Linked DNA regions of Homo sapiens: region 1 is linked to region 2. The links come from fine-mapping of genetic effects on gene expression. A gene starts in region 2. The other region holds a variant in brackets. All regions are shown on one strand. Distances are from middle to middle.

Evidence for each region. PIP is the estimated chance that this variant, and not a neighbour inherited with it, causes the effect.
Region 1: its variant is fine-mapped to the expression of ACRBP in whole blood (INTERVAL, PIP 0.92).

Annotation. Positions count from the first base shown.
Region 1 is chr12:6,612,452-6,627,178 of GRCh38, reverse strand. LPAR5 (lysophosphatidic acid receptor 5) reads left to right here. Exons shown (of 2, transcript NM_020400.6): 2 at 5,715-8,344. The coding sequence starts at 5,931. The coding sequence ends at 7,049. It overlaps LOC105369631 (a long non-coding RNA gene), which reads right to left and starts at 13,093. Exons shown (of 4, transcript XR_007063192.1): 1 at 12,662-13,093; 2 at 12,267-12,352; 3 at 9,390-9,529; 4 at 413-490. RefSeq lists enhancers at 6,276-6,796, 6,797-7,318, a silencer at 13,346-13,415 and a cis regulatory region at 12,656-14,398. The variant A/G (reference allele first, on the strand shown) is at 9,155.
Region 2 is chr12:6,639,580-6,654,306 of GRCh38, reverse strand. It overlaps ACRBP (acrosin binding protein), which reads left to right and starts at 6,875. Exons shown (of 10, transcript NM_032489.3): 1 at 6,875-6,983; 2 at 7,295-7,513; 3 at 7,730-7,824; 4 at 8,970-9,087; 5 at 9,702-10,170; 6 at 10,636-10,768; 7 at 13,785-13,964; 8 at 14,080-14,247. The coding sequence starts at 6,941. It overlaps ING4 (inhibitor of growth family member 4), which reads left to right. Exons shown (of 8, transcript NM_016162.4): 3 at 911-1,077; 4 at 1,257-1,371; 5 at 1,540-1,645; 6 at 1,889-2,036; 7 at 2,922-2,983; 8 at 3,073-4,006. The coding sequence ends at 3,112. RefSeq lists enhancers at 6,948-7,017, 6,941-7,454.

The sequences.
Region 1 (14,727 bases), 27 kb after region 2:
TGTGAAAGATGAGTTTATGTCACCACTTTTGGAAGTGGTTATTTTTAATAACCCACTTCAAATAACCCACTTTATACATTTCAGTTGGACAATGAGGAAGTGAAATAATGTATCTATGTTAGATATTATGTATAGAAATTAAAATATGGTGATGATCAGTAAATGATACCTATTATTTTTAACATTTACAGAGGTAGGTGCTGAGAATACACAAAGATGAATAAGCCATGGTCCACAGCCCCTCCCTCTAAGAGTTCACAGTCTAATGGGAGGGGCAGACCAGGAACAGCTGACTACCATGCATGGGGAGAGCTCTGATAAACCTGCGCACTGTTGCGGAGGCACAAGTGAGGGTACCACATCCGCCTTGTGTTGCGGGGGCGGTTAGGGAAGGCTTTGCAGAGTCCTGAGAAAATACTAGGCTTGCCAGTTGGAGAACGGGAGGCAGGGCATTCCAAGTTGAAGAAACACCACATACAAAGGCAGAGTCCTGAAAACATAAGGTATGTCCACAATTAGTATTAGTTTGGTGTGAATGGAGCAAAGGAGCATGGAGCAGGGGAGTGTATCAGAAATGAGCCTGGTTTTACTTGCTTTTCAGCATGTTTAAGTCTCATTTGGTATTATTTTCATTGTTGAGACTGGTATTTTGCAGAGGAAGTATTTCTTTATTCCCTTTAACTGTTTTACTATATCTCTTACAAGTCTCAAACTGCTGATGGTGGTGGTTGGAAGGAGAACAAAACCAAATACAAGAAAAACTTGTGGCCAGGTACAGTGGCTCATGCCTGTAATCCTAGGACTTACAGAGCCCAGGGCAAAAGGATTGCTTGAGCCTGAGTTTAAGACCAGCCTGGGCAACACAGTCAGACCCCGTTTCTATGAAAAAATTTTTTCTTTTTTTGAGATGGAGTCTTGCTCTGTTGCCCAGGCTGGAGTGCAGTGGCGCGATCTTAGCTCACTGCAACCTCTGTCTGCCTCCTGGGTTCAAGCGATTCTCCTGACTCAGTCTCCCGGGTAGCTGGGATTACAGGCACCTGCCACTATGCCTGGCTATTTTTTTGTATTTTTAGTAGAGACGAGGTTTCACCATGTTGGCTAGGCTGGTTTCGAGCTCCTGACCTCAAGTGATCCACCCACCTCAGCCTCCCAAAGTGCTAGGATTACAGGCATGAGCCACTGCCCCTGGCCATCTACAAAAAATTTAAAAATTAGCCAGGGATGGTGGCACACGCCTGTAGGTCCAACTACTCAGAGACTGAGGTAAGAGGATCACTTGAATCTGGGAGTTCAGGACTGCAGTGGGCCAAGATCGAGCCACTGCTTTCCAGCCTGGACCACGGAGTGAGACCCTGTCTCAAAAAAAACAAAAAACAAAAAACAAACAAAAAACTTGTTATAGCCAGATTTATGACTTATTTTCTTGCAACAATTTAAACAGTTCCTTTTTTTTTTTTTGAGACGGAGTCTCACTGTCGCCCAGGCTGGAATGCAGTGGCGTGAACTCGGCTCAGTGCAAATTCTGCCTCCCGGGTTCCCGCCAGTCTCCTGTCTCAGCCTCCTGAGTAACTGGGACTACAGGCGCCCACCACCACGCTCAGCTAAATTTTTTTGTATTTTCAGTAGAGACGAGGTTTCACCATGTTAGCCAGGATGGTCTCGATCTCCTCACCTTGTGATCCGCCCGCCTTGGCCTCCTAAAGTGCTGGGATTACAGGCATGAGCCACCGCGCCCGGCCCTCTTTTTTTTTTTTTTTTGAGACGGAGTCTCTGTTGCCCAGGCTGGCGTGCAGTGGCTCAATCTCGGCTCACTGCAAGCTCCGCCTCCCGGGTTCATGCCATTCTCCTGCCTCAGCCTCCTGAGTAGCTGGGACTACAGGCGCCTGCCACCACGCCCGGCTAATTTTTTGCATTTTTAAAAGAGACGAGATTTCACCGTGTTAGCCAGGATGGTCTCAATCTCCTGACCTCGTGATCCGCCTGCCTCGGCCTCCCAAAGTGCTGGGATTACCAGCGTGAACCACCACGCCCGGCCTAAACAGTTCCTTTTGAAAGTAATAAGCTCGGTGTCTTGGGATAATTGCTCAGGGTCTCAGACAACTTCTCTCCCTAAGATGACATCTAGACACCCATGTTCACAGTGGCATTATTCACAATAGCCAAAAGGTGGAAAGAATCCAAGTATTCACTGACAGATGAATGGATGAGCAAAACATTATACAATGAAATACATTATTCAGCTATAAAAATGAAATTCCAGGCCAGGTGCGGTGGCTCACATCTGTAATCCCAGCACTTTGGGAGGCCGAGCCGGGTGGATCACCTGAGGTCAGGAGATCGAGACCAGCCTGACCAACAGGGAGAAACCTCGTCTCTACTAAAAATACAAAATTAGCCAGGCGTGGTGGCGCATGCCTGTAATCCCAGCTACTTGGGAGGCTGAGGCAGGAGAATCGCTTGAACCCTGGAAGCAGAGGTTGCGGTGAGCCGAGATCGTGCCATTGCACTCCAGCCTGCGCAACAAGAGCGAAACTAGGTCTCAAAGAAAAAAACGGAAAAGAAAAAAAAAGAAATTCCTTTACATACTACAACATGAATAGATCTTGGAAACATTATGCTAAGTGAAATAAACCAGACACAAAAGGACAAATATTGTATGATTCCACTCATATGAGGTATCTAGAATAGGCAAATTCATTGAGACAGAAAGTAGACTAGAACCAGAAGCTGAATGGGGTGCGGTGGGTAGTACTGCTTAATGACTGCAGAGTTGTTGCTTGGTTGATGAAAAAGTTCTATTTCTGGAAACAGAGAGTGGTGACGGTTAAGCAACACTGTCTTGGTCTTTGTTGTTGTTGTTGTTGTTTTTGAGACGGACTCTCACTCTGTCTCCCAGGCCGGAGTGCGATGGATTAGACCTGCTAGGGGAGCACTTGGCAAAACTCAACCCACAGGGCCTTCCCCTGCCTAGCAAGACTGTGCTGTCAAATTTATTCACATGTGGCTCTGGTCAAGACTAGCATGCAATCAGCCTATGAGGGCATTATTATATTATTATTCCCATTTTACAGATGAAGAAACTGAGAAGTCAAACCATTAAGCTGAACCCAGTTTGCTTTGACCACAAATCCAGCCCTCACAGGCGCAGTGATGCATGTGATGCGTAAGGCTGGGATGTTGTTCTGTATTTGGGAGTTTTGTTTGCTTGTTTGCTTGTCTGACATGGAGTCTCACTCTGTCACCCAGGCTGGAGTGCAGTGGCGTGATCTCGGCTCACTGCAACCTCCGCCTCCCGGGTTCAAGGACTCTCCTGCTGCAGCCTCCCATGTACTCAAAGAGTTTGACCTTTATTCTTTGGATAATGAGGAGCTAGCCTAGCACCTGGTCCAAGGAGGTGCTCCATAAGACCACCTATTGATTTGTGCTTATTATCTGTCTCCCTCCAATGGAATGTAAAGGAGGTGGGGGCAAAGACTTTTTGCTTTGTTCCCTGCTGTGAACATGCCTGGAACTTTCTATGAGCTCAGTAAGCAAGGAAAGAAGGAAGGAAGAGATCTTGAGATAGTAACAGCAACCTAAGCGTTTTACACACGTCATCTTAATCTCCAAACCTCATGAATTCTCTCTCTCTCTCTCTCATTTTTTGAGACAGAGTCTCGCTCTGTCACCCAGGCTGGAGTGCAGTGGCGTGATCTCGACTCATTGCAACCTCTGCCTCCTGGATTCAATCAATTCTCATGCCTTAGCCTACTGAGGAGCTGGGATTACAAGTGCACGCCACCATACCCGGCTAATCTTTGTATTTTTAGTAGAGGCAAGATTTTGTCATGTTGGCCAGGTTGGTCTTCAACTCCTGGCCTCAAGTAATCCACCCACATCAGCCTCCCAAAGTGCTGAGATCACAGGCATGAGGTACCATGCAGCCGCCTTTTTTTTTTTTTGAGATGGAGTCTCGTTTTGTTACCCAGGCTGGAGGGCAGTGGTACGATGTCAGCTCACTGCAACCTCCGCCTCCTGGGTTCAAGTGATTCTCCTGTGTGAGCCTCCTGAGTAGCTGGGACTACAGGTGCATGCCACCACATCTGGCTAATTTTTGTATTTTTAGTAGAGACAGGGTTTTGCCAGGTTGGCCAGGCTGATCTCGAACTCCTGACCTCAGGTGATCTGCCCGCCTCAGTCTCCCAAAGTGCTGGATTACAGGTGTGGGCCACTACGCCGGCCCTGGCCCTCTTTCTTTCTTTTTTGAGATGGGCTCACTCTGTCACCCAGGCAGGAGTGCAGTGGTGGGCTTGAGGCTCACTGCACTGCAGCCTCCACCTCCCTGGAGTCAAGTGATTCTCTCACCTCAGCCTCACAAGTAGCTGGGACTACGGGCATGTGCCACAATGCCTGGCTAATTTTTTAATTTTTTAATATTTTTTATTTTATTTTTTTTTGAGACAGAGTCTTGCTCTGTCACCCAGGCCGGAGTGCAATGGTGTGATCTCGGCTCACTGCAACCTCTGCTCAAGCAATTCTCCCTGCCTCAGCCTCCTGAGTAGCTGGGATTACAGGCGCCTGCCACCACGCCCGGCTAATTTTTTTTTTTTTTTAGTAGAGACAGGATTTTGCCATGTTGGCCAGGATGGTCTCAACCTCCTGACCTCAGGTGATCCGCCCACCTCAGCCTCCCAAAGTGCTCGGATTACAGATGTGAGCCACCACGCCCAGCCTTATTTTTATTTTTTATTTTATTTTATTTATTTATTTTGAGATGGAGTTTCACTCTTGTTGCCCAGGCTGGAGTGCAATGGCGCGATCTTGGCTCACTGCAAACTCCACCCCCCAGGTTCAAGCAATTCTCCTGTCTCAGCCCCCTGAGTAGCTGGGATTACAGGCGCCCGCCCCTATGCCAGGCTAATTTTTGGTATTTTTTTTAGTAGAGATGGGGTTTCACCATGTTGGCCAAGCTGGTCTCGAACTCCTGACCTCAGGTGATCCACCTGCCTCGGCCTCCCAAAGTGCTGGGATTACAGGCGTGAGCCACCGCGCCTGGCTATTTTTATTTTTTGAGACAGAGTTTCACTTTTGTTGTCCAGGCTGGAGTGCAATGGCACAGTCTCAGCTCACTGCAACCTCTGCCTCCTGGTTTCAAGCGATTCTCCTGTCTCAGCCTCCCGAGTAGCTGGGATTACAGGTGTGCACCACCACGCCCAGCTAATTTTTGTATTTTTAGTAGAGATGGGGTTTCACCATATTGGACAGGTTGGTCTCGAACTCCTGACCTCAGGTAATCCACCCGCCTCGGCCTCCCAAAATGCTGGGATTACAGGTGTGAGCCACTGCACCTGGCCCTGTATTTTTTTGTAGAGATGGGGTTTCGCCGTGTTGCCCAGGCTGGTCCCCAACTCCTAGGTTCAAGCAATTGGTCTGCCTTGGCCTCCCAAAGTGCCAGGATTACAGGTGTAAGCCATTGCACCCAGCCAAGATTAATTTTTTTGAAGTCACACAACTAGGCAAGTTAGCAAAACCAAGATTTAAACCTAGGCATCCGAGTCCCTGCCTTCAAACCTGGGTGTTTAACACTATACTATATAGTCCTGCCGTAGGAACCTATTCTAGCCCAATGGCAGACTTGAGGCTGAGAAAAGATTCAGAAGGCCTGCCAGTGGAGCTAAACATTTGTGTGTGCAGCCCTGTCTCTGTATAACTTCCGGCTTGCCTTCCTATTCCAGGTCTCTGCTGCTGATGAAGCTGTGACCAAACGCACCCAACCCTTGGCAGCCATCTGTCCCTGCAGCCATAGCCCACATTCCCATGACCTCCCTCTGCTTGTTTTGGGACCATGTCTGTACAGCCTCTAGGCCCCAGCCCCGGAGGTGAATGCCATGCCATGATTCTGGTGTGCTCCATGGCATCCCCAGCCTAGCTCCCAATCCCACTTTGGCACGATGTTAGCCAACAGCTCCTCAACCAACAGTTCTGTTCTCCCGTGTCCTGACTACCGACCTACCCACCGCCTGCACTTGGTGGTCTACAGCTTGGTGCTGGCTGCCGGGCTCCCCCTCAACGCGCTAGCCCTCTGGGTCTTCCTGCGCGCGCTGCGCGTGCACTCGGTGGTGAGCGTGTACATGTGTAACCTGGCGGCCAGCGACCTGCTCTTCACCCTCTCGCTGCCCGTTCGTCTCTCCTACTACGCACTGCACCACTGGCCCTTCCCCGACCTCCTGTGCCAGACGACGGGCGCCATCTTCCAGATGAACATGTACGGCAGCTGCATCTTCCTGATGCTCATCAACGTGGACCGCTACGCCGCCATCGTGCACCCGCTGCGACTGCGCCACCTGCGGCGGCCCCGCGTGGCGCGGCTGCTCTGCCTGGGCGTGTGGGCGCTCATCCTGGTGTTTGCCGTGCCCGCCGCCCGCGTGCACAGGCCCTCGCGTTGCCGCTACCGGGACCTCGAGGTGCGCCTATGCTTCGAGAGCTTCAGCGACGAGCTGTGGAAAGGCAGGCTGCTGCCCCTCGTGCTGCTGGCCGAGGCGCTGGGCTTCCTGCTGCCCCTGGCGGCGGTGGTCTACTCGTCGGGCCGAGTCTTCTGGACGCTGGCGCGCCCCGACGCCACGCAGAGCCAGCGGCGGCGGAAGACCGTGCGCCTCCTGCTGGCTAACCTCGTCATCTTCCTGCTGTGCTTCGTGCCCTACAACAGCACGCTGGCGGTCTACGGGCTGCTGCGGAGCAAGCTGGTGGCGGCCAGCGTGCCTGCCCGCGATCGCGTGCGCGGGGTGCTGATGGTGATGGTGCTGCTGGCCGGCGCCAACTGCGTGCTGGACCCGCTGGTGTACTACTTTAGCGCCGAGGGCTTCCGCAACACCCTGCGCGGCCTGGGCACTCCGCACCGGGCCAGGACCTCGGCCACCAACGGGACGCGGGCGGCGCTCGCGCAATCCGAAAGGTCCGCCGTCACCACCGACGCCACCAGGCCGGATGCCGCCAGTCAGGGGCTGCTCCGACCCTCCGACTCCCACTCTCTGTCTTCCTTCACACAGTGTCCCCAGGATTCCGCCCTCTGAACACACATGCCATTGCGCTGTCCGTGCCCGACTCCCAACGCCTCTCGTTCTGGGAGGCTTACAGGGTGTACACACAAGAAGGTGGGCTGGGCACTTGGACCTTTGGGTGGCAATTCCAGCTTAGCAACGCAGAAGAGTACAAAGTGTGGAAGCCAGGGCCCAGGGAAGGCAGTGCTGCTGGAAATGGCTTCTTTAAACTGTGAGCACGCAGAGCACCCCTTCTCCAGCGGTGGGAAGTGATGCAGAGAGCCCACCCGTGCAGAGGGCAGAAGAGGACGAAATGCCTTTGGGTGGGCAGGGCATTAAACTGCTAAAAGCTGGTTAGATGGAACAGAAAATGGGCATTCTGGATCTAAACCGCCACAGGGGCCTGAGAGCTGAAGAGCACCAGGTTTGGTGGACAAAGCTACTGAGATGCCTGTTCATCTGCTGACTTCTGTCTAGGCTCATGGATGCCACCCCCTTTCATTTCGGCCTAGGCTTCCCCTGCTCACCACTGAGGCCTAATACAAGAGTTCCTATGGACAGAACTACATTCTTTCTCGCATAGTGACTTGTGACAATTTAGACTTGGCATCCAGCATGGGATAGTTGGGGCAAGGCAAAACTAACTTAGAGTTTCCCCCTCAACAACATCCAAGTCCAAACCCTTTTTAGGTTATCCTTTCTTCCATCACATCCCCTTTTCCAGGCCTCCTCCATTTTAGGTCCTTAATATTCTTTCTTTTTCTCTCTCTCTCGTTTCTCTCTTCTCTCTCCTCTCCTCTCCTCTCTCTTCTCCTCTTCTCTCTCTCTCCCTCTCTCTCCTTTGTCCAGAGTAAGGATAAAATTCTTTCTACTAAAGCACTGGTTCTCAAACTTTTTGGTCTCAGACCCCACTCTTAGAAATTGAGGATCTCAAAGAGCTTTGCTTATATTTTGTTCTTTTGATACTTACCATACTAGAAATTAAAGCGAATACATTTTTAAAATAAATACACATGCACACATTACATTAGCCATGGGAGCAATAATGTCACCACACACACTTCATGAAGCCTCTGGAAAACTCTACAGTATACTTGTGAGAGAATGAGAGTGAAAGGGACAAATAACATCTGTGTAGCAGTATTATGAAAATAGCTTGACCTCGTGGACTTCCTCAGAGGGTTGGTCCCTGGATCACACTTTGAGAACCATACTTGTCCTGAAGTATTGGAGTTCATGTCTAACTTCTTCCCAGGGCATTATGTACAGTGCTTTTTATTACTGTGGGGAGAGGGCAGTGCTAAATAAATTAATCACTACTGATAGTCTTCATGGCTCAGGGTTTTCCTGCGGCCCTAGGAGTAGTACATAAAATGGAACACTACCCTGGGCATATCAGAGCAGCAGCCCTGGGGCAGGGATGGAGACTGGGGGGTGGAACTAGTCATACACTCAGGCAGAGGGGATGGGGCTTCTCTGGGGGAGGGAAAAGGGAACTGTGCCACAGCCAGGAGAGAAAAGTTTATGGGGAAGTTAAGAGTGAGATGGGAGGACAGGAATAGGCTGTCCATTCTCAGCACGCTGGAAGCAAGGGAAATGGGCCACCTACTAGTCCTTCCCTCTTTTTTTTTTTTTGTTGAGACAGGGTCTCGCACTGTCACCTGGGCTGGAGTGCAATGGCGCGATCTCAGCACACTGCAACCTCTGCCTCCCGGGTTCATAGGATTCTCCTGCCTCAGCCTCCCAAGTAGCTGGGATTACAGGTGCACACCACCACACCCGGCTAATTTTTTGTATTTTTAGTAGTGATAGGGTTTCACTATGTTGGCCAGACTGGTCTCGAACTCCTGACCTCAGGTGAATCTGCCTGCGTCCCAAAGTGCTGGGATTACAGGCATGAGCCATTGTGCCCGGCTATTCCTTCCCTCTTCACCCAAGTTGGGGGCTCGGAGGGGCTGCAGAGTTGGCACTTGTGGACATCTTCAGACCCTGGCATTACTGAAGGAGCTGTTGCCCTGTGTGCGTCCTATAGCATTTCTGTCCCTATGTCTCAATACTGTATTTTTATCTGTGTGTGCACGCACTCTGTGTGTGTGAGAGAATGTGTGTGTGTGTGTGTGTGAGAGAGAGAGAGAGAG[A/G]GGTGTGTGTGTGTGTGTGTGTGTGTGTGTCAGGGTTCTCCGTTTGTGTCTGTTTTAGTCCAGGGTAGCCTTTTGTGTGTGCCTTTATGCCAAGTGCTCCAGATGGTGATTTACAGGGGTAAAATGACCCCTGGTGGCCAAATCAGAGAACTGACCCAGATTCCTCAGGGATAGCCATGAAATCTGGGCCTTTCTCCATCTGGGTGGAGATTGGAGCCTGGAGCCCGGCACTTACCTCCAGCCGCTCTGGAAGAGGCCTGGTGATTAGCACCTGCTCCATCTCTCTTCATCTTCAGGGTTCAAGACCTGTGCCCTTCCTGTCCTGAGAGCACTGGCAGCGCCAAACCTCGTAGTCCAAAATCTTAGCACTTTGCCCTATTCAAACAGAATCAAACACAATTTTTAAAGATTACTTGAGTACTTTTATAGGCAGGTACGTGAGTTCCAAAGTAATTACAACTCACGGCATGTATCACTTTTCAACATACTATATAATTTATTTATTCTAATTTTTATAGTTTATCATCTCCGCCACCCCGTCCTATATCCTAGGTAGAATGTAAGTTCTGTGGGGGCATGGATTTTTGCTTGATTCTCTGATGATCCCCAGCATCTAAAACAGTGCCTGGCACAGAGAAAGTGCTCAGTAAATATTTGTTGAATGAATGAACAGTCAGATCTTGCTGTGAAGTAGTTTACAATCTAGTGAGAACCATAGAACAAGTAAACAAAAACTATAATGCCAGGCAGAAAACACAAGAATGCAGGGTAAGGTGCTGGCAGTTGGTTTAGTGGGCAATGGGAAGCCCACGGAGGCTCCTGAGTGAGGTTTTGCTCACACTGACAAACTGTGTGGAATAAACTGTAGGAAAATGATGGGGGGGGAAAGTCTAAAGAAACGAAAGACTGGTCAGGGGGCCATTACAATAGCCCAGGACAAGTGTGGCCATGGCCTGTGGAAGAGCTAGATGGCAATACATTGTCTCTGATGTGAAATCTCTGGTGTCAAAGCCCTGGTGGACTATTTCCCCCCATTCAGATATCCAAAGGCTTTCCATCAAGAGAACAGAGAGGCAAGAATAGATTAGGCCATTTTCATAGGGTTCCCCAAGACTAAGAGAGCAATATGAAGTCCAGAGCCCTCACCCCATGCCCTGAAGCTGCTCTATTTAAGGTCTATGAAAATCCAAAGATAGAGAAGGGGAAAATCTTAGACAGACGGGAATGAGCATTAGCAGTTTTTGTTGTTGTTGTTGTTTTTGAAATGGAGTTTCACTCTTGTTGCCCAGACTGGAGTGCAGTTGGTGGTCTCTGCTCACTGCAACCTCCGCCTCCCAGGTTCCAGCTATTCTCCTGCCTCAGCCTCCTGAGTAGCTGGGATTACAGGCGCCCGCCACCATGCCCGGCTAATTTTTGTATTTTTAGTAGAGACAGGGTTTCACCATGTTGACCAGGCTGGTCTTGAACTCCTGATCTCAGGTGATCCACCCACCTCGGCCTCCCAAAGTGCTGGGATTACAGGCGTGAGCCACTGCACCCGGCCTTTTAGCAGGTTTAAAAAATACTCTTCTGTATGCCAAGATTTCAAGTTAGCGCTTAAGATGCATTATCTTCTTTATTATATTAAATAATATAATCTGAGTTGGAGATGATGTTCATCCCTTTTACAGATGAAACACCCTGGAGAATCTGAGGTCTTAAGGTCACACAACTAGAAAGTGGCTCAGTCTGTAATTTGGCTCCCAAACTCCTGCTTTTTGCAGTATACCTCTCCTTCCTGGGACTTTCTTTCCTGTTACATACCACCCCGGGTTTCCTTCCTTCTCCTCCCCTCCTCATGTAGCCACCTCTTTCAACTGCCTGGCTTGCCTTGAATCTGCTGCATCATCTTGGTCCTCCTCTTCCCAGTTCTTCCTCCATGCCCCTAATCCACTTGCCCTACAGCACACCCGCCCCTTCCCTCTCCGTTTGTCTCAGCCCCCTGTTTATTGAACACCATGTGGCTGTAGGGGTTGGGGAGGTTGAGAGCTGGCTCACTCAAGGTTCTAATTGTGTTGGGCCCTAAAATACACCACATCGAGGGCCCACACACAGGCAGAATGCCTTAAGACTTCAGGCAGTTGGCCATGACTCCCCTCCCCCAGCCTGTGATGTACCCTACATCTCCAAGGCAGCACTCCTGATTGTGTACACTGAGCAGGGACCATCCCTTGGTTCACCCTTCCTCAAAGTCTGTCTCCTCGGTAGGATGGTCCCTCCACATGGTGAGAGGAGCTGGGAAGAGTAACAATCATTATTATTATTTTTTTTTTTTTGAGATCGAGTCTTGCTCTGTCACCCAGGCTGGAGTGCAGTGGCACGATCTCGGCTCACTGCAACTTCTGCCTCCCAAGTTCAAGTGATTCTCCTGCCTCAGCCTCCCGAGTAGCTGGGACTACAGGCACGTGCCACCACACCCAGCTGATTGTTTTTATTTTTAGTACAGACAGGGTTTCACCAGGTTAGCCAGGATGGTCTCCGTCTCCTGACCTCATGATCCGCCCACCTCGGCCTCCCAAAATGCTGGGATTACAGGCATGAGCCACCGCTCCTGGCCTTAATTTTTTTTTTTTTTTTTTTTTTTGAGACAAGGTCTTGCTCTGTCATCCATGCTGGAGTGCAGTGGTGCCATCTCGGCTCACTGCAACCTCCCCCTCCCAGATTCAAGTGATTCTCCTGCCTCAGCCTCCTTAGTAGCTGGAATTACAGGCGTGCGTCACCACGCCCAGCTAATTTTCGTATTTTTAGTAGAGACGGGGTTTTACCATGTTGGCCATGCTGGTTTTGAACTCCTGGCCTCATGTGATGTGCCTGACTCTGCCTCCCAGAGTGCTGGGATTACAGGTGTGAGCTACCACACCCGGCCACAATCATTAATCTTAAAACAAATTTAGGAGAGCCAGGGCAGAGGTAAGGGATATCAAAGGAGGGCAGAGATTCTTCCTTCTTGGTCCTCAACCATCCTGAAGATGGAATTCCCTCGAGGCTGCCACCTGGAGTCCCATGGAAGAAACGGGGAACGGAAGGTTAATCTCACACAGGAAGGCCCTGGACAAGTTGGGGTAATTCTCACCATGTTGTCCTTGCCAGAGGAGCACGGAAAGTCCTGGAAGGTGAACTTTCTCACTCAGGGTTTGGGGAATCCCAAAGGCTCCAGAACTTTGGAATCAAACAAATCTGGGCATTAATTTCAACTCTCTCACTTCTTGGCAATGTGGCTTCAACAAATTTCTTGACCTCTCTGAGCCTCTGTTTTCTCCCATTTCTCTGTGAAATGGGGCTCATAATATCCACTTATTGGGTTATTGTGAGGGTCAAGGAGCCCACCTTTGAAAGGTACTCTAGATGCCCCATAAGTGGGAGCTCCTTCTTTCCAACAAGAGCATGGGGAGGCGAGGCCATTGATCAACTCTGCCAGTGATGCCCAAGGGGAGTGTTTCCCGAAGACCTGAAGGGCTCTTTCCTCACCCAGACAGAGCTCTGCCAGCAATCAGACGTAGGACCACGGGAGGTGGTGAGCAAGGCAGGCTGGGCAGGTTTCCACGGTGCTAGGTCAAGCAGGCAGTCTTTAGGGGCAGCGACTGGCCTGTTGCCCTCTGGGGGCACTCTCTCCCCACTAGGCCCATGTCCATCCCACAGACCAAGGAGGAGGTAGGAAAGTGCAAGACAGGGGGAAGCTGGCTGGAGAACCAAGCAATGGAGAAAGGGCAAGGGAGGAGGCTGGAGGGGAAGCGAGGGCCCAGGCAGGCACGGGGTGGGGCTGGGAGAGGGGCCCAGGGCAGGAGGGCGGGAGAAAGCCTGGGAGGGAAAGCGCCGACCAGGGAGGGAGGAGGGACAGGGAGGGAGGCCTGCGGCGCTGACACAGCCTCGATGTGTGGAACTGGCTGGGGTTTGGCCCACAGGTCAGGCGTCTGGCAGTATTATGGGATGGAGAGGCCTTAGGAGACAGGGAGAGTATTATGGGCTGGAACAGCCTTAGGAGACTGGGGAATATTATGGGTTGGTGAGGCCCGGCTCCAACTGGAGGCGGGAGGAAGGGGTGCGGGGCGGGAAGGGGGGGTGGTGGTGGAAGGGAGTATTATGGGCTGGAGGCCTCCTGCGACCAGAGGCAAGAGTATTATGGGCTGGCAAGGCCTTCGGTGGCCAGAGGGGGGAGCAGCGGGGGATGGCACCGGCTGCATGTGACTGAGGGGGGGCCAAGTTGGGGGGGGTGGTGAGTGGGGGTGGGGGAGCTTATTATGGGATAGCTCTTTGTACCTACTGCGGGGACTGCTTCTCCAGAAGATATTATGGGATGTCGTGTGTGGGAGGGGGAGTGGGGCTGGGGGGATTATTATGGGATGGTGGTGCAGAATGGGGAGGGCCTGAGGAGCTCTTCTCCAGCCCCCCCACCTCCTCAACCCTTACTCGCCTACCATCCTTTCTAAGGTCACCGTCCTCTCTCAGACTCCCCAAGAGGAACACCTGAAACCCATCTCCCTACACACACAGACTTTGGGCACCTCAACCCATCCCGGGCTTCTCCCCTAACTAGCAGCCACCTCCGGGGTGCTGAGGAGAAAAGTAGCCCCTGGCGAATGGGGAGAAAGCCCTAAAGCAGGGTGGTGGTGGCCAGTGGATCACACCTTCCACCTGCACGACGGCCTCCTCTGCACCCTAGCCCCTTATACCACCGTCCTTCCCCTTCTCCCTGCATCCCACAAAGTGGGGGCCCTGGATCTTTCTCCCCTCCCCCCTCCCCTCCATTTCCTCTCCAGCTCCCTCCACAGCCGTAACCAGTAAAACAGGCGGCCAGCTATTATGGGATGGCTGCTCCCAGCAGCTCTGCAGGGAGGGGGCGGTCACCGCGGAATGTCTCTTGTGGGTGGCTATTATGGGATGGCCGCCTCTCTTTTTTTGGGGGGGTAAGGCTAGCGAGGAGGATTATTATGGGATGTGCCCTGCACAGCTGGGTGGGGCTGTCCAGGAGAGGTGAAACTCTAGGGAGGGGTGGGGAGGGGGAGGGAAGGAAGAGGGAGGGAAGGAGCTGGGGAGGGTAGGGTGAGCCCTGGAGTCGGACCTGAGGCCTGGCAGGAGTAACTGGCTGGAGAGGTTTCTTTGGTGACAGCTGTTTGAAGGGGCCCCTGGGGCAGGCTCCAGCGAGCCAAATCTGAACCCTGGACACCTGGGTCCTTTAAACAGCTTGTGCGCTACAGGGTTGCCCTGTGAGTCCGGGGCCTGCAGAGCTGCACTGCAAATGAGAACTGAGATGTTCTGGCCGGGTGGCATACCAAAGGGAGTAGTAGTCATGGATGGCGATAGTACCCGTCTCCCTTCCATCTTTGTCTTCCTGGGTTTGAGCCTGGGGACCATAGCTCAGGTTGGGGGATTGTGCACGGAGCACTTTGCTTAGGTTGGGGGGTTGTGCACGGAGCACTTTGCTTAGGTTGGGGGGTTGTGCACGGAGCGCTTTGCTACCTTGCAGTCACACCCAAAAAACAGATAGTAGGTTGCCTCCTGAGATACAAACACCTGGCATGTCACCCCCAAGCCCC
Region 2 (14,727 bases):
AGCAGAATTGTTACATGGATGTTGGAGTAAGGTCTAATTTTAAATTGTGTGATATACTCAACTACTCAGGAGGCGAAAAGATAGAATCACTTGAGGACAGGAGTTGGAGGTCAGCCTAGGCAACAAACATAAGAGAGAACCTGCGCCTGCCTCTAAAAATAAATAGATTAGGCCAGGCATGGTAGCTCACCCCCAATAATCCCAGCACTTTGGGAGGCTGAAGCAGGCAGATTGCTTGACCCAGGAGTTCGAGACCAGCCTGGGTAACGTGGAAAAAGCCTGTCTCTACAAAAAAATAGAAAAAATTAGCCAGGCGTGGTGGTGCCTGAGATGGGAGGATCACCAGAGCTCAGGAAGTTGAGGCTGCAGTGAGCCATGATTGTGCCACTGCACTCCAGCCTGGGCGACAAAGTGAGACCCTGTGTCAAAAAGAAAAAATACTAATAATTTTGAAATGTATGATATTGATGTACAGACTTGGAAACCAGCAACAGCAGATGACTCAGCCTGATTTGCGGCAGACAACTGCTGTGGGATGTTTTTGAGAAGGAAACAATGGCTTTTGAGACAAAATTCAAGAAGCAGCAAGCCCTTCAAAGAAGCATCTTCAAACATGGACAAAAATACACTTCATATTAATGTGGTGTGCAAAGGATCCCTTGCTGTGTTTCAGTAATTTAAATTCCAACTATGATAGCAATGTTTTCAGCACCTTGAAAGGACCTTTAAAGCAAATATTGTCAGTATGTTCCATTACTTGAGTGCATGGCACAGTACCTCTGAACATTCAGTACTTTTTAGTTGGAAGGTTATGCTAATCAATGGAAAAGGTCCAAAGAACAAAAGGAAGAAATGTGTTTCACCTAGCCACTCAGGGGCCATTGTGACCAGGCCTCTGTCTCTGTTGTAGACCTGAAGGCTGAAATTGACAAGTTGGCCACTGAGTATATGAGTAGTGCCCGCAGCCTGAGCTCCGAGGAAAAATTGGCCCTTCTCAAACAGATCCAGGAAGCCTATGGCAAGTGCAAGGAATTTGGTGACGACAAGGTGCAGCTTGCCATGCAGACCTATGAGATGGTATGGCCCTGTTCATGGCTCCCCACCTACTTCCCATCTAATCCTCAGGGTCTTAGACCCCTCCTTCAACTGTGTTGGGATCTGTTTGGGGTCTGTGAGATCCATAAACTCTGCCTTAACCTATTTTCTTTAATTGGAGATAGTTTTGTACCTCTCCTTTCTCCTTCCTTTCCACCCAGGTGGACAAACACATTCGGCGGCTGGACACAGACCTGGCCCGTTTTGAGGCTGATCTCAAGGAGAAACAGATTGAGTCAAGTGACTATGACAGCTCTTCCAGCAAAGGCAAAAAGAGTGAGGAGGGGGCGGGGCTGTGAGAGGTGGGGCGAGGACTGAAAGGGAGAAGAAGTCAGCTCTTCATCTGGTGGGAAGTTTGGCACCAGGTTGGAAAGGGGGAGAGAAGAGGACTTAACCCATCTTTCTGTCTCCCTGCCTTCTGGCTTTCTCCCTCTTCCCTAGAAGGCCGGACTCAAAAGGAGAAGAAAGCTGCTCGTGCTCGTTCCAAAGGGAAAAACTCGGATGAAGAAGCCCCCAAGACTGCCCAGAAGAAGTTAAAGCTCGTGCGCACGTGAGTGATTCAGGGAGCCCTTTGCCGGATGACATCCTCTTCTCTCCCGGTGCCCCACTCCCAGCCTGCACCGCCCCCTGCCGCTTTCTATATGTCTGCGCCAAGAACTCTTCTTATCATTTTGGTATCTGCTGGAGAAGCCACAAATCATTTGCCCTACCAGGATCTCCTGCCACCTCTGAAAGCCTCAGGCTTTAGCTTCCCTTCCTGTAGATGACACTTTCTCTTCCTCTTGGCATGCAGAAGTCCTGAGTATGGGATGCCCTCAGTGACCTTTGGCAGTGTCCACCCCTCTGATGTGTTGGATATGCCTGTGGATCCCAACGAACCCACCTATTGCCTTTGTCACCAGGTCTCCTATGGAGAGATGATTGGCTGTGACAACCCTGATGTGAGAAACATTTTGCCTTAGGATGGGGGGTTGTGAGGGGCATGAAGGGAGTGGGTACAAGAGGGAAAATCCCACAGTTGAGTACTGGGACTTCAGAATAGAAGAAAGATGGGCTGGACGTAGTAGCTCTTGCCTGAAATCCCAGCACTTTGGGAGGCTGAGGCGGGCAGATCACGTGAGGTCAGGAGTTTGAGACCAGCCTGGCCAACATAGTGTAACCCCTTCTCTACTAAAAATACAAAAATTAGCTGAGCATAGTGGCACACGACTGTCATCCCAGCTACTCGGGAGGCTGAGGCGAGAGGCAGGAGAATTGCTTGAACCTAGGAGGCAGAGGTTGCAGTGAGCTGAGATCACGCCACCACACTCTAACCTGGGCGACAAGAGCAAGACTCTGTCTCAAAAAAAAAAAAAAAAAAAAAGCCTGAAAGCCTGGCGCTGTGGCTCACGCCTGTAATCCCAGCACTTTGGGAGGCCAAGGTGAGCAGATCACTTGAGATCAGGAGTTCGAGACTGGCCTGGCCAACACGGTGAAACCCCGTCTCCACTAAAAATACAAAAATTAGCCAGGCATGATAGCCTGTGCCTGTAATCTCAGCTGCTTGGGAGGCTGAGGCAGGAGAATAGCTTGAACTCGGGAGGCGGGGGTTGCAGTGAGCTGAGATCATGTCATTGCATTCCAGCCTGGGCAACAGAGTGAGACTCTGCCTCAAAAAGAAAAAAAGAATAGAAGGAAGATGGTGGGAACTGGTTGGCCTTGGGACTTCCAAGAATTCTCCAAAAGGATGGAGTAAAGGACAGGATGTTCCTAAGGAATCTGGAGGGGCTTTCTCTCCTTCCTCTGGCCCTTCCTGGCCCCTGACTACTTCTTTCTTCCTCTTCCAGTGTTCCATTGAGTGGTTCCATTTTGCCTGTGTGGGGCTGACAACCAAGCCTCGGGGGAAATGGTAAGTGGCAGGAGTTGGAGGGTCCCTAAGTTGAGTGGTCAAGGGCATTCTCCCTTTCACTCACTTTTCTCTCCCCTTCTCTGTTTCAGGTTTTGCCCACGCTGCTCCCAAGAACGGAAGAAGAAATAGATAAGGGCCTTGGATTCCAACACAGTTTCTTCCACATCCCCTGACTTGGGCTAGTGGGCAGAGGAATGCCTGTGCTGGGGCCAGGGGTTCAGGGAGGAGTGGATGGCACAGTGCTGTCATCCCTTCTCCTCCCCTCTCCCCACTCCCGGTGCTGAGGCTGCATCAGACCCTGGTAGGGAGGGGTGCCGCAGCCACTAACGGTATGTGCTCTCCTTCAGCCCTCTCCCTTCGGAGGGACGTGGTCTTGCCCACTGTCCTTTTGCCTCCATGCTGAGGTCGGTGCTGTATTTCAGAGGGAGGGTCCTTTTCATTCTCCTTGCTTTGTATTTAAGGACTGGGGCATAGCATGGGGGCAGTCCCCCAGACCTCTTCATTCCCCCTCCTGTGGTGAGGGCTAGGTGTGATCAACACTTTTCTTCTCCATTCCCTTCCTGCTTTTTTCATGGTGGGGGATCCACCAGGTCATCTAGGCTCTGGCCCTAGTTGAAGGGGCACCCCTTCCTCTGTGCCAAGAGGATTCATCCTGGGAGAGGGGGCAAGGTGGAATGCAGATAACTCACATGTAAAAGGAACTTGGGTAGGTAAATAAAAGCTATACATGTTGGCCTGCTGTGTTTATTGTAGAGACACTGTTTTAGTAAACATGCTGAGCATTCATTTTGCGTCCTCTGGGTTGGATGCAATGTGAGAGGATGGCATGCCAGAATTAGGACACGACATGAAACCAGAGTGGTGCCTCTGTCCGAGAACTTGTAAGTTCTCAACTTGGGAAAGACAGAGGTGCTGGAGGGTAGGCCTCAGACCAGGGGGTCTCCAAAACTTTGTAAATCATGCATCTTTTCTCCATAAAACATCTTTCACTTAATTTCCAATAAATGATGTATTTGTGCTATACATACGTACTGCTATACTATACATTAGCTTGACTTCTTTTTTTTTTTCCTTTGAGGCGAAGTCTCACTCTGTTGCCAGGCTGGAGTGCAGTGGCGTGATCTTGGCTCACTGCAGTCTCCGCCTCCGGGTTCAAGTGATTCTCCTGCCTCAGTCTTACAAGTAGCTGGGACTACAGGCACATGCTACCACGCCCAGCTAATTTTGTATTTTTAGTAGAGACAGGGTTTCACCGTGTTGGCCAGGATGGTCTCCATCTCTTGACCTCATGATCTGCCTGCCTTGGCCTCCCAAAGTGCTGGGATTACAGGCGTGAGCCACAGCACCCAAGCTGATTTCTTTTTTTCATTTTTTAAAATTTTTTTTAAAGTAGGCCAGGCCCGGTAGCTCACGCCTGTAATCCCAACACTTTGGGAGGCCAAGGGAGGTGGATCACCTGAGGTCAGGAGTTCAAGACTAGCCTGGCCAACATGGCGAAACCCGGTCTCGGCCAAAAATACAAAAATTAGCTGGGCGTGGTCATGGGTGCCTGTAATCCCAGCTACTCGAGAGGGTGAGGCAGGAGAATCGCTTGAACCTGGGAGGCAGAGGTTGCAGTGAGCTGAGATTGTACCACTGCACTCCAGCCTGGGCGATAGAGTGAGACTCCGTCTCAAAAAAATAAATAGGCTGGGTGCGGTGGCTCACACCTGTAATCCCAGCACTCTGGGAGGTTGAGGTGGGTGGATCACCTGAGGTCCGGAGTTCGAGGCCAGTCTGGCCAACATGTTAAAACCCCATCTCTACTAAAAATACAAAAATTAGCCAGATGTGGTGGCATGTGCCTATAATCCTAGCTACTTGGGAGGTTGAGGCAGGAGAATCACTTGAACCCAGGAGGCAGAGATTGCACTGTGCTGAGACCAGCCATAATTTTTGTATTTTTAGTAGAGACTGGGTTTCACCCTTTTTTTTTTTTTGAGATGGAGTCTCACTCTGTCATGCAGGCTGGAGTGCAGTGGCGTGATTTCGGCTCACTGCAACCTCCATCTCCCGAGTTCAAGCAATTCTCCTGCCTCAGCCTCCCGAGTAGCTGGGACTACAGGCACATGCCACCACGCCTGGCTAATTTTTTGTATTTTTAGTAGAGACAGGGTTTCACCGTGTTAGCTAGGATGGTCTTGATCTCCTGACCTCGTGATCTGCCTGCCTTGGTCTCCCAAAGTGCTAGGATTACAGGCATGAGCCATCGCACCGGCCAAGTTTCACCATTTTGGCCAGGCTGGTCTCAAACTCCTGGCCTCAAGAGATCCACCCTCCTTGGCCTCCCAAAGTGCTGGAATTCCAGGAATGAGCCACAGTGCCTGGTCTCTATTTTATTAATTTATTTTATTTTATTTTATTTTTGAGACAGGGTCTCACTTTGTCACCCAGGCTGGAGCACAGTGGTGAGATCTCAGCTCACTGCAGCCTTGACCTCTGAAGACTCAGGTGATCCTCCTACCTCAGCCTCCCCAAGTAGTAAGTGGGACAACAGGCGCACACCACCACACCTGACAATTTTTGTATTTTTTGTAGAGACAGGGTTTCGCCATGTTGCCCAGGCTGGTCTGGAACTCCTGGGCTCAAGGAATCCACCCGCCTTGACTTCCCAAATGCTGGGATTACAGGCGTGAGCCACCAAGTCTGGCCCAAGACAATTTCTTGTTTTATTTTTCTTTTTTACTTTTGCTTTTGGGTGGGGACAGGGTCTCACTTTGTCACCCAGGCTGGAGAGCAGTGGCCCGATTGCACCTCACTGCAGCCTTGGCCTCATGGGCTCAAGCGATCCTCCCATCTCAGCCCCCCAAGAAACTGGGACTACAGGCACGTGCCACCACGCTTGGCTAATTTTTTGTACTTTTTGTAGAGACGAGGTTTCGCCCTGTTGCCCAGGCTGGAATTTCTCATTTTAAACACAAAACAGATACAAAAGCAAAAGTTCTCCTCCCATACCTCAGTGGACTGTCTTACTCGATTCTCCCTTGGAAACCACTTTCGTAGACCACTGAGCCACCCTCTTGTTTTCCCCTTGGACCCATTTTGCTCATGGAGGCGCCCTGTCTAGTTCCTACCCAGATAGGCCTTGACTTGGTTTTGCACATTCTATCTCTGCCTGCGCTTAGCTCTAGACCTCACGACCTGTTTGTTGGGCGAGTTGCTTCCCTAAGCCCCGATTTCTCATCTGTAAAACGAATGATAGTGTATCTACCTTATGGGATTCCTATGGCAATTACGTAAGGTAGTGCATGTAAAGATGCTAAGTGGCTGGCTACGGTGGCTCACACCTGTAATCCCAGCACTTTGGGAGGCCGAGGTGGGCAGATCATTTGAAGTCAGGAGTTCAAGACCAGCCTGGCCAACATGGTGAAACCCAGTCTCTACTAAAAATACAAAAATTAGGCCGGGCATGGTGGCTCACGCCTGTAATCCCAGCACTTTGGGAGGCCGAGGTGGGCGGATCACAAGGTCAAGAGATCGAGACCATCTGGCCAGCATGGTGAAATACCATCTCTACTAAAAATACAAAAATTAGCTGGGCGTGGTGGCGTGCACCTATAGTCCCAGCTACTCGGGAGGCTGAGGCAGGAGAATCACTTGAACCTGGGACGCCGAGGTTGTAGTGAGCCGAGATCGCACCACTGCACTCCAGCCTGGGCGACAGAGTAGGACTCCGTCTCAAAAAAAAAAGAAAAAGACGCTAAGTGAAGGTAGCTGTTTGCCATTCCTACCATCTGGATGGGCTCTGGCCACTTTAGGGCCCTGAGAGCCCGGCTGTCGAGGCCCCGCCCCGGCCCGCTCTTTGTGACGCGTGGGCGGTGCCCGCGTGCGCCCCGCCCCGCGCCTGCGGCTCTCTCTGCGGCTTGGCCCGTTAGAGGCGGCTTGTGTCCACGGGACGCGGGCGGATCTTCTCCGGCCATGAGGAAGCCAGCCGCTGGCTTCCTTCCCTCACTCCTGAAGGGTGAGAGGTTTACACCTGCTCCAACAGACTCTCCCCGGGCTAGTCCTCTCCCTCCCGAGAGCTCTGCTTTTACGGTTTCTGGATCGCTTCCTCATGGTGGTCGCGCTGGGTCGGCTCCCTAGGTCCTGGGATACTCCCATCTCCCCCCGCCCGCGGCCGGACCTTTGCCTCTGTCTCTAGACTCCCCCCGCCCTGGTCAGCAGGGATAACCCTCACCCCGTTCCTAATTTGCCAGTCTGGGTCTGTCTGTCCTGGTCTCGGAGCGGGTTTTGGGGTTCGGTCCTTCCATCATCCGTTCGCCCGCTCCGCAGTGCTGCTCCTGCCTCTGGCACCTGCCGCAGCCCAGGATTCGACTCAGGCCTCCACTCCAGGCAGCCCTCTCTCTCCTACCGAATACGAACGCTTCTTCGCACTGCTGACTCCAACCTGGAAGGCAGAGACTACCTGCCGTCTCCGTGCAACCCACGGCTGCCGGAATCCCACACTCGTCCAGCTGGACCAATATGAAAACCACGGCTTAGTGCCCGATGGTGAGGGCCAGACTAGGGGGGAAACCGAGGCACCCAGAGTGTTCACCCAAACCTCAGGGCAAAAACCCCTGTGCTCATGTGAGGCGGGGAAGGGCATGGCTGGCACCACACCATGAGCTCGTACTCTCCACCCTCCCCATGGCGTGGAGTCCATTGCCCACAGCCCCACCCCAAGCTCCCCACGGGTTCATCTTCTCCACCCCTGCCCTTTCTCAGGTGCTGTCTGCTCCAACCTCCCTTATGCCTCCTGGTTTGAGTCTTTCTGCCAGTTCACTCACTACCGTTGCTCCAACCACGTCTACTATGCCAAGGTGAGGCCCAGGACAAAGGTTGGATTTGGTGCCCCAGGGCCAAGGGAGAGGCGGCAGCAGTGGGGAGTTGAGGAAGGGTTCCAGGAGAGTCATCCTTAGCTCCTCCTTCCCTGCCATTTTGCCAGTCATTTACCCAGATTATATATGAATACAGTCTCACCTTGGATATTCAGATTGAACAATTCTGTTACTGCAAGAAAAGTAGAGAAGAGACTGGGCATGGTGGCTCATGCCTGTAATCTCAGCACTTTGGGAGCCCGAGATGGGCAGATCACCTGAAGTCAGGAGTTCGAGACCAGCCTGGCCAACATGGTGAAACCCCGTTTCTACTAAAAATACAAAAAAAAAAAAAAAAAATAGCCGGGCTTGGTGATGGGCGCCTGTAATCCCAGCTACTCGGGAGGCTGAGGCAGGAGAATTGCTTGAACCCGGGAGGCAAAGGTTGCAGTAAGCCGAGATCATGCCACTGCACCCTATCCTGAGTGGCAGAGCAAGACTGTGTCTCAAAAAAAAACAACAACAGGGACGAGTGCGGTGGCTCACGCCTGTAATCCCAGCACTTTGGGAGGCCGAGGCAGGCAGATCATGAGGTCAGGAGATCGAGACCATCCTGGCTAACACGGTGAAACTCTGTCTCTACTAAAAATACAAAAAATTAGCTGGGCGTGGTGGCAGGCGCCTGTAGTCCCAGCTACTCGAGAGACTGAGGCAGGAGAATGGCGTGAACCCGGGAGGTGGGGCTTGCAGTGAGCCGAGATCGCGCCACTGCACTCCAGCCTGGGTGACAGAGTGAGACTCCGTCTCAAAAAAAAAAAACAAAAAAAACAAACCCAAAACCCAAACAAAAAGAAGTAGGGAAGAGGGATGGGAAGAGGCAAAGAGATAAGCCCTTACGTTTCTTCGAACAGGTCAGTGATTTTGAGTCAAATGCAAAAGTGACGGCAGGGATGTGGCCCAGACAAACAGAGATTCATCTTCTGAAGGGACCCTTTCTCAGGTCTAGAGGGTTCCAGCAGGGACCATGTCCCTTTATCCCTGCCTAGAAACTGAGAGATAAGACATGCTGGAAAAGGGGTTGAAGAACCAGCTGGAGCAGAAGTCTGCCCTTTAGGAAAGGCTTTCCCATTTTCCTTCTCTTCCTGCAGAGAGTCCTGTGTTCCCAGCCAGTCTCTATTCTCTCACCTAACACTCTCAAGGAGATAGAAGCTTCAGCTGAAGTCTCACCCACCACGATGACCTCCCCCATCTCACCCCACTTCACAGGTGAGACCCTCTCAGCAGCCGGGAGACCACCAGCTACTCCCACAACTCCCAGAGCCCACAACGTAAGGCATCCATGGCAGGGAAATGGGAAGCATGTTGGGCGGGAAGGGGGCGCCAGCAGACAGCTGTTTACACAAAGGAGTGTCAGCTTTTTATGAATACAAGTTAGGGCTCTCCTGGACCAGAATCTCTTCTGCCATTACTTACAATTTTGCCCTGAATCCATTTTTCCCAATTCCAGAGACATTGTTGCATTACAAAGGACCTCTAGGCCCTTTATAAGCTAATGTCTTCACTTTAGAAAGGATTGACTGCTAGCTACTCAGCATACTTGGTGTTTCCTAAGGGAGAGGGACAAATGGTGGTATTTGAGGTGGAAGTTAGGGAAGGAGGAGTGCTTGCCAGGGAGGTGGGAAGGTGATGCATACCACCAGCCTTACAGTTGCCGTGGTAATGTTCTTTTAGTTTAATACTTATGTTCTTTTCTGTGTTTTTCTGTGTGTATAAGTGTGACTTGGTCTGCTTTGTTTATGTGTGTGTCCCTCTGTGAACAAAGACACTCAGGGGCTAGAAGCCTGACTGTCTCTCTCCCTTCTCTCTAAACCCTGCTGTAGTGACAGAACGCCAGACCTTCCAGCCCTGGCCTGAGAGGCTCAGCAACAACGTGGAAGAGCTCCTACAATCCTCCTTGTCCCTGGGAGGCCAGGAGCAAGCGCCAGAGCACAAGCAGGAGCAAGGAGTGGAGCACAGGCAGGAGCCGACACAAGAACACAAGCAGGAAGAGGGGCAGAAACAGGAAGAGCAAGAAGAGGAACAGGAAGAGGAGGGAAAGCAGGAAGAAGGACAGGGGACTAAGGAGGGACGGGAGGCTGTGTCTCAGCTGCAGACAGACTCAGAGCCCAAGTTTCACTCTGAATCTCTATCTTCTAACCCTTCCTCTTTTGCTCCCCGGGTACGAGAAGTAGAGTCTACTCCTATGATAATGGAGAACATCCAGGAGCTCATTCGATCAGCCCAGGAAATAGATGAAATGAATGAAATATATGATGAGAACTCCTACTGGAGAAACCAAAACCCTGGCAGGTATAGGAAGTTTTGACTCTGTCATCCACCCTGCCCTCCCTTCTGCCTTTCTTGGGAGTGAGAAGCCCATTTTCCTAGCTTCAGCCTCCAGATCCACTCAGACCTGTCTGGACTTCAGGCACAGCTAGCAACTGCCTCACCAATTCTGTGCCCATTGTTGGCTTAAGCACTGCTCAAATGCTTATTCTCTATGTAAGCCCTGTACCTGGAGCTACCAGACTTGGGTTCTGGTCTTGTCTCTGCCCTGTTTAGCATTGCAATCCTGAGAAAGTAATTTCTCCTTTCGGGTCCTCAGTTCCTCATTTGAAAAATGAGGCGATTTGTCCAGAGGCCTCTAAGGCCCCATGCTAAGCATGCTGAATGTGTGTGACCAAAGCAGACACTAAGGGAAGGGGAAGAGACTGGATGTAGTTTCCTGCCCGGGCCACCTGGCCCAGCCCCACCCTCAGTGCTGTCTTCTTGCAGCCTCCTGCAGCTGCCCCACACAGAGGCCTTGCTGGTGCTGTGCTATTCGATCGTGGAGAATACCTGCATCATAACCCCCACAGCCAAGGCCTGGAAGTACATGGAGGAGGAGATCCTTGGTTTCGGGAAGTCGGTATGCCAGCCATACTGTCTAATGGATACATGCCACTGGGCATCCTCTTGGCCAGGCACTGTGCTAGGCTATGGGAGTGGAGGATGGGCAGGAGAAGCATGAGACATAGCTGGAGAGATTCTCTCCAAGTGGGACTCTTTTCTTAGGAAGGGCATTACCAGTCCACTTTAAAGGAGGAAGGCTCAAGACCCAGTCTGAAATGCAATCCAGTCCAGAATTCATTCTTCACCTCTTCACCTCCCTGAGTTGCCAGGCTTCCAGATTTCACTCCTTTTTTTTTTGAGACAGGGTCTTACTCTATTACTCAGGCTGGAGGGGAGTGGTGCGATCATGGCTTACTGCAGCCTTGACCACCTGGGCTCAAGTGATCCTCCTCTCATCTCAGCCTCCCGAGTAGCTGGGACTATAGGCATGTGTCACCATGCCTGGCTAAATTTTTTTTTATTTTTTGTAGAGATGGGGTCTCCCTTTGTTGCCCATGTTTGTCTAGAACTCCTGGGCTCAACCAATCCTCCTGCCTCGGCCTCCCAAAATGCTGGGATTACAGGCATGAGCCACCATGCCCAGCCTTGAGTCAACTCTTGATTCTTGATCCACCTCACCATCTTCCTAGCTTTGCCTTAGATGCAGCTCTTCTTCTTTCCAGAGAGTTCATAGAACCCATTCCAGGGAATCTGTAAAGAGATTCCAGTCTCAATGTGTCCTCAACAACCAGCAAGTCTACTCCCAGGAAAATATACCTTAGATTTTCACAAATAATACAATTTAGCAAACATTTTTCGAGAGCTCAGATACCATCCATTCATCTGTTTGTTCAACAAATACTGATTGGGAGGACAAGAATAACATAAAAATGAATGAGGTAGAGCATACTTGTCCTATATAAATCCAGACTTTCTATAAAGCTCAAGTAACTAGGATAATGTGAAATTGGGATGGTGACAGACAAATAGACTACCCAGAGCCCAGAAACAGATTTTCTGTGACTGATTTGTGGGAAAAGAGGAACTCCCATTTATGGTACTGGAATGATGGGTTAACCATGAGGAAAAAATGAAATTGAATTTCTATCTTACACCCAAAGATTTGGGTGTCCCCTGCAGATAGATGATCACCTAGGAGTAGATACACAAAAAACATTTCAAGATGATTTAAAGACTTAAGGGTTTCACACCATATACAAAAATTAACTCACAATGGATCAAAGACCTAAATGTAAGACCTAAAAGTGCCTGTAAAACTCTTAGAATAAAACTTAGATGTATCTTGTCATGAAAAAAAATACTGATTGGGGACAAACTCTACTAGATATTTAAGATGTTAGCAGTATGTGCAATAGAGCCAGTCCTCTGTCCTCTTGGAATCTAGGGCAGGAGAGAGACAAGGAAATATGCAGGATGGTGTGATGGGATCAGTGCTGTAGCAGGGATAGGCACAAAGTACAGAGAGCAGATGGGGTGGGTTGGGGACAACTCTCCATGTTTGGGAGGATCAGAGGGTGCTTCCAAGAAGAACTGATGTTTAAACTGAGACCTGAAGATAAAAGAAGTGAATCCAGGCAAAAGAAGGGGCTTGGTAGAAGATTCCTGATAGAGAATAGTATGTGCAAAGGCTATGATGCAAAGAAGAGTAGAAATTTCTTTTGTATTTTTTTGTAGAGACAGGGTCTCGCCATGTTGCCCAGGCTGATCTCAAACTCCTGGGCTCATGGAATCCATCTCAGCCACTTCCACTCAGCTGGAATTACAGGCATGAGCCACCGTGCCTGGCCCAAAGAAGAGGTAGAAATTTCATGAGTGAAATTAGTATGCTAACAATGAGCATACTGTTTCTGCTCTTAAGGGGCCAAGAACCCATGAGGGAGTTAATATGGATACAGTAATATTACAAAGGGAGTGTGGTCGGTGAGGTTCTTAAACAAAATGCAAGAAGTTCAGGGTTTTATGGAGGGAGCTCACTGGATTTGATGGCTTAGATAAGAGGACAGTAAGGAGGGAGTCCCTTTTACCTGGAGCAGAGCAGCAGGAGACAGAGTCAAAGAGATCAACAGGGTCATGACGCAAAAACTCTTGAATGGCAACATGAGCATTTGCACTGAATTTGATAGGAAAGGGGAATCCAATAAAGATTTCTGGCCAGGGACATGATGCCTCCGTTATGTGGGAGGAGCAGGCAAGGTGCCATAGGAGATTGCATGCACTGTGACAGGCTGTGCCCATGGGGGAGGAAGGAGGACCGTGGGATTGACTAAAGATACTGCTTAGTACGATCTCCTGCTAGTGCTGAGGAAGCTGAGGGCAGAACCCAGCTGGGAGATTGGTAACTCCACTCTGAAGAATAGCTTCCAAGAACTTGGAGGTTTCCAACCCAGGTACTTGGATAGAGCATAGGTTTTAGAGTTGGAAGGACCTGGACCCATGTCCCAGCTTCCCCATCTGTTAGATAAGTGGCTTTGAGCAACTTACTCAACCTCACTGAGAGTCAGTTTCCTTGTCAGTAAATGAGAGTAATATTAGTATCTCTGCTGTTATAGGGTTGTCGTGAAAACTAAATGAAATGAGAGCATGTGTAGCCATAGTGCTGGCACTGGGTCACCTCTTTGTAAATATTAGCATTATCATTAGCAGAGGTGGCAGGGGAGGGTTATGAGTTCTTTTCAGATAGGCTAAGTTGGGGTATCTGTAAGATCACCCAATCACAGACATCTGTCAGGCACTTGGCAATGAGGATTTGGAGCCCAAGAGAGAGATCAGAGCTGGTGATAAAGATTTGGGTGTCACTCGCAGATAGATGATTACCTAGGAGTAGATAAATCATCCAGGAAGAGGGTGAAGAAATAGCTGAGGCAAGGTCCTTGAGGAACCCTTGGGGAGGAGGCCAAGTAGAAAACCCAGAGAAGCTTTTGGAAGAGGCTAAATGCAAAGACATTCTGCAGGGCCCACCCTGGAGGGCTGAGGCATGGGAGAAGGCAGGCCGCTGACTCTCAGCTTCAGCCTCACCCATTCCCCTGCCCCAGGTCTGTGACAGCCTTGGGCGGCGACACATGTCTACCTGTGCCCTCTGTGACTTCTGCTCCTTGAAGCTGGAGCAGTGCCACTCAGAGGCCAGCCTGCAGCGGCAACAATGCGACACCTCCCACAAGACTCCCTTTGTCAGCCCCTTGCTTGCCTCCCAGAGCCTGTCCATCGGCAACCAGGTATCTAGCCCGGCAGCCCGCAGTGGGAAAGGCAGAACTGGGTGGCAGGGGTGGGGTGGTGGTGGCCAGCAGGTGGGGAGGGGCACGCACCTCTCCCCTATCTCCTGTGCCACAGGTAGGGTCCCCAGAATCAGGCCGCTTTTACGGGCTGGATTTGTACGGTGGGCTCCACATGGACTTCTGGTGTGCCCGGCTTGCCACGAAAGGCTGTGAAGATGTCCGAGTCTCTGGGTGGCTCCAGACTGAGTTCCTTAGCTTCCAGGATGGGGATTTCCCTACCAAGGTTAGAACCTTTCCCCAAAGCTCAGCCCCATCCCTACCCTCACCCCATTCCTTCCAGTTACTTGCTGTGAGTAGCGCTAGTTTGTGGAAGGGGGCTTGGGCCCCTGGCTTCTGAGAACCCGTCCTCACTGAATCTCCTGCCTCTCTCCAAGAGACCATTGCACCCCACCCCACCCTCCACCAATAGAGCAGGCAAAGGAGTGGGGACCCAGAGGGCTGAGAAAACAGGAGCTAGAGGTTCTGGTCCCAACTCTGCCAGTTACTTGCTGGGTGGCTGTGATCAAGTCACTTCCTACTCAATCAAAGAGTCATCTCTACAAGAAATGACTGAGTGACACGTGCACCACTGCCCAACCCTGTGATCCAGGACTTCCCGGCCTTAGCCTGACGGGCTTCCCAGCTCTTCCAGTGCCTTCCCTGCTCAATTAAATCAACTTGGCTCCCCGTTCCCCTGAGTTACCTCCCCTGTGGAATGACCTGT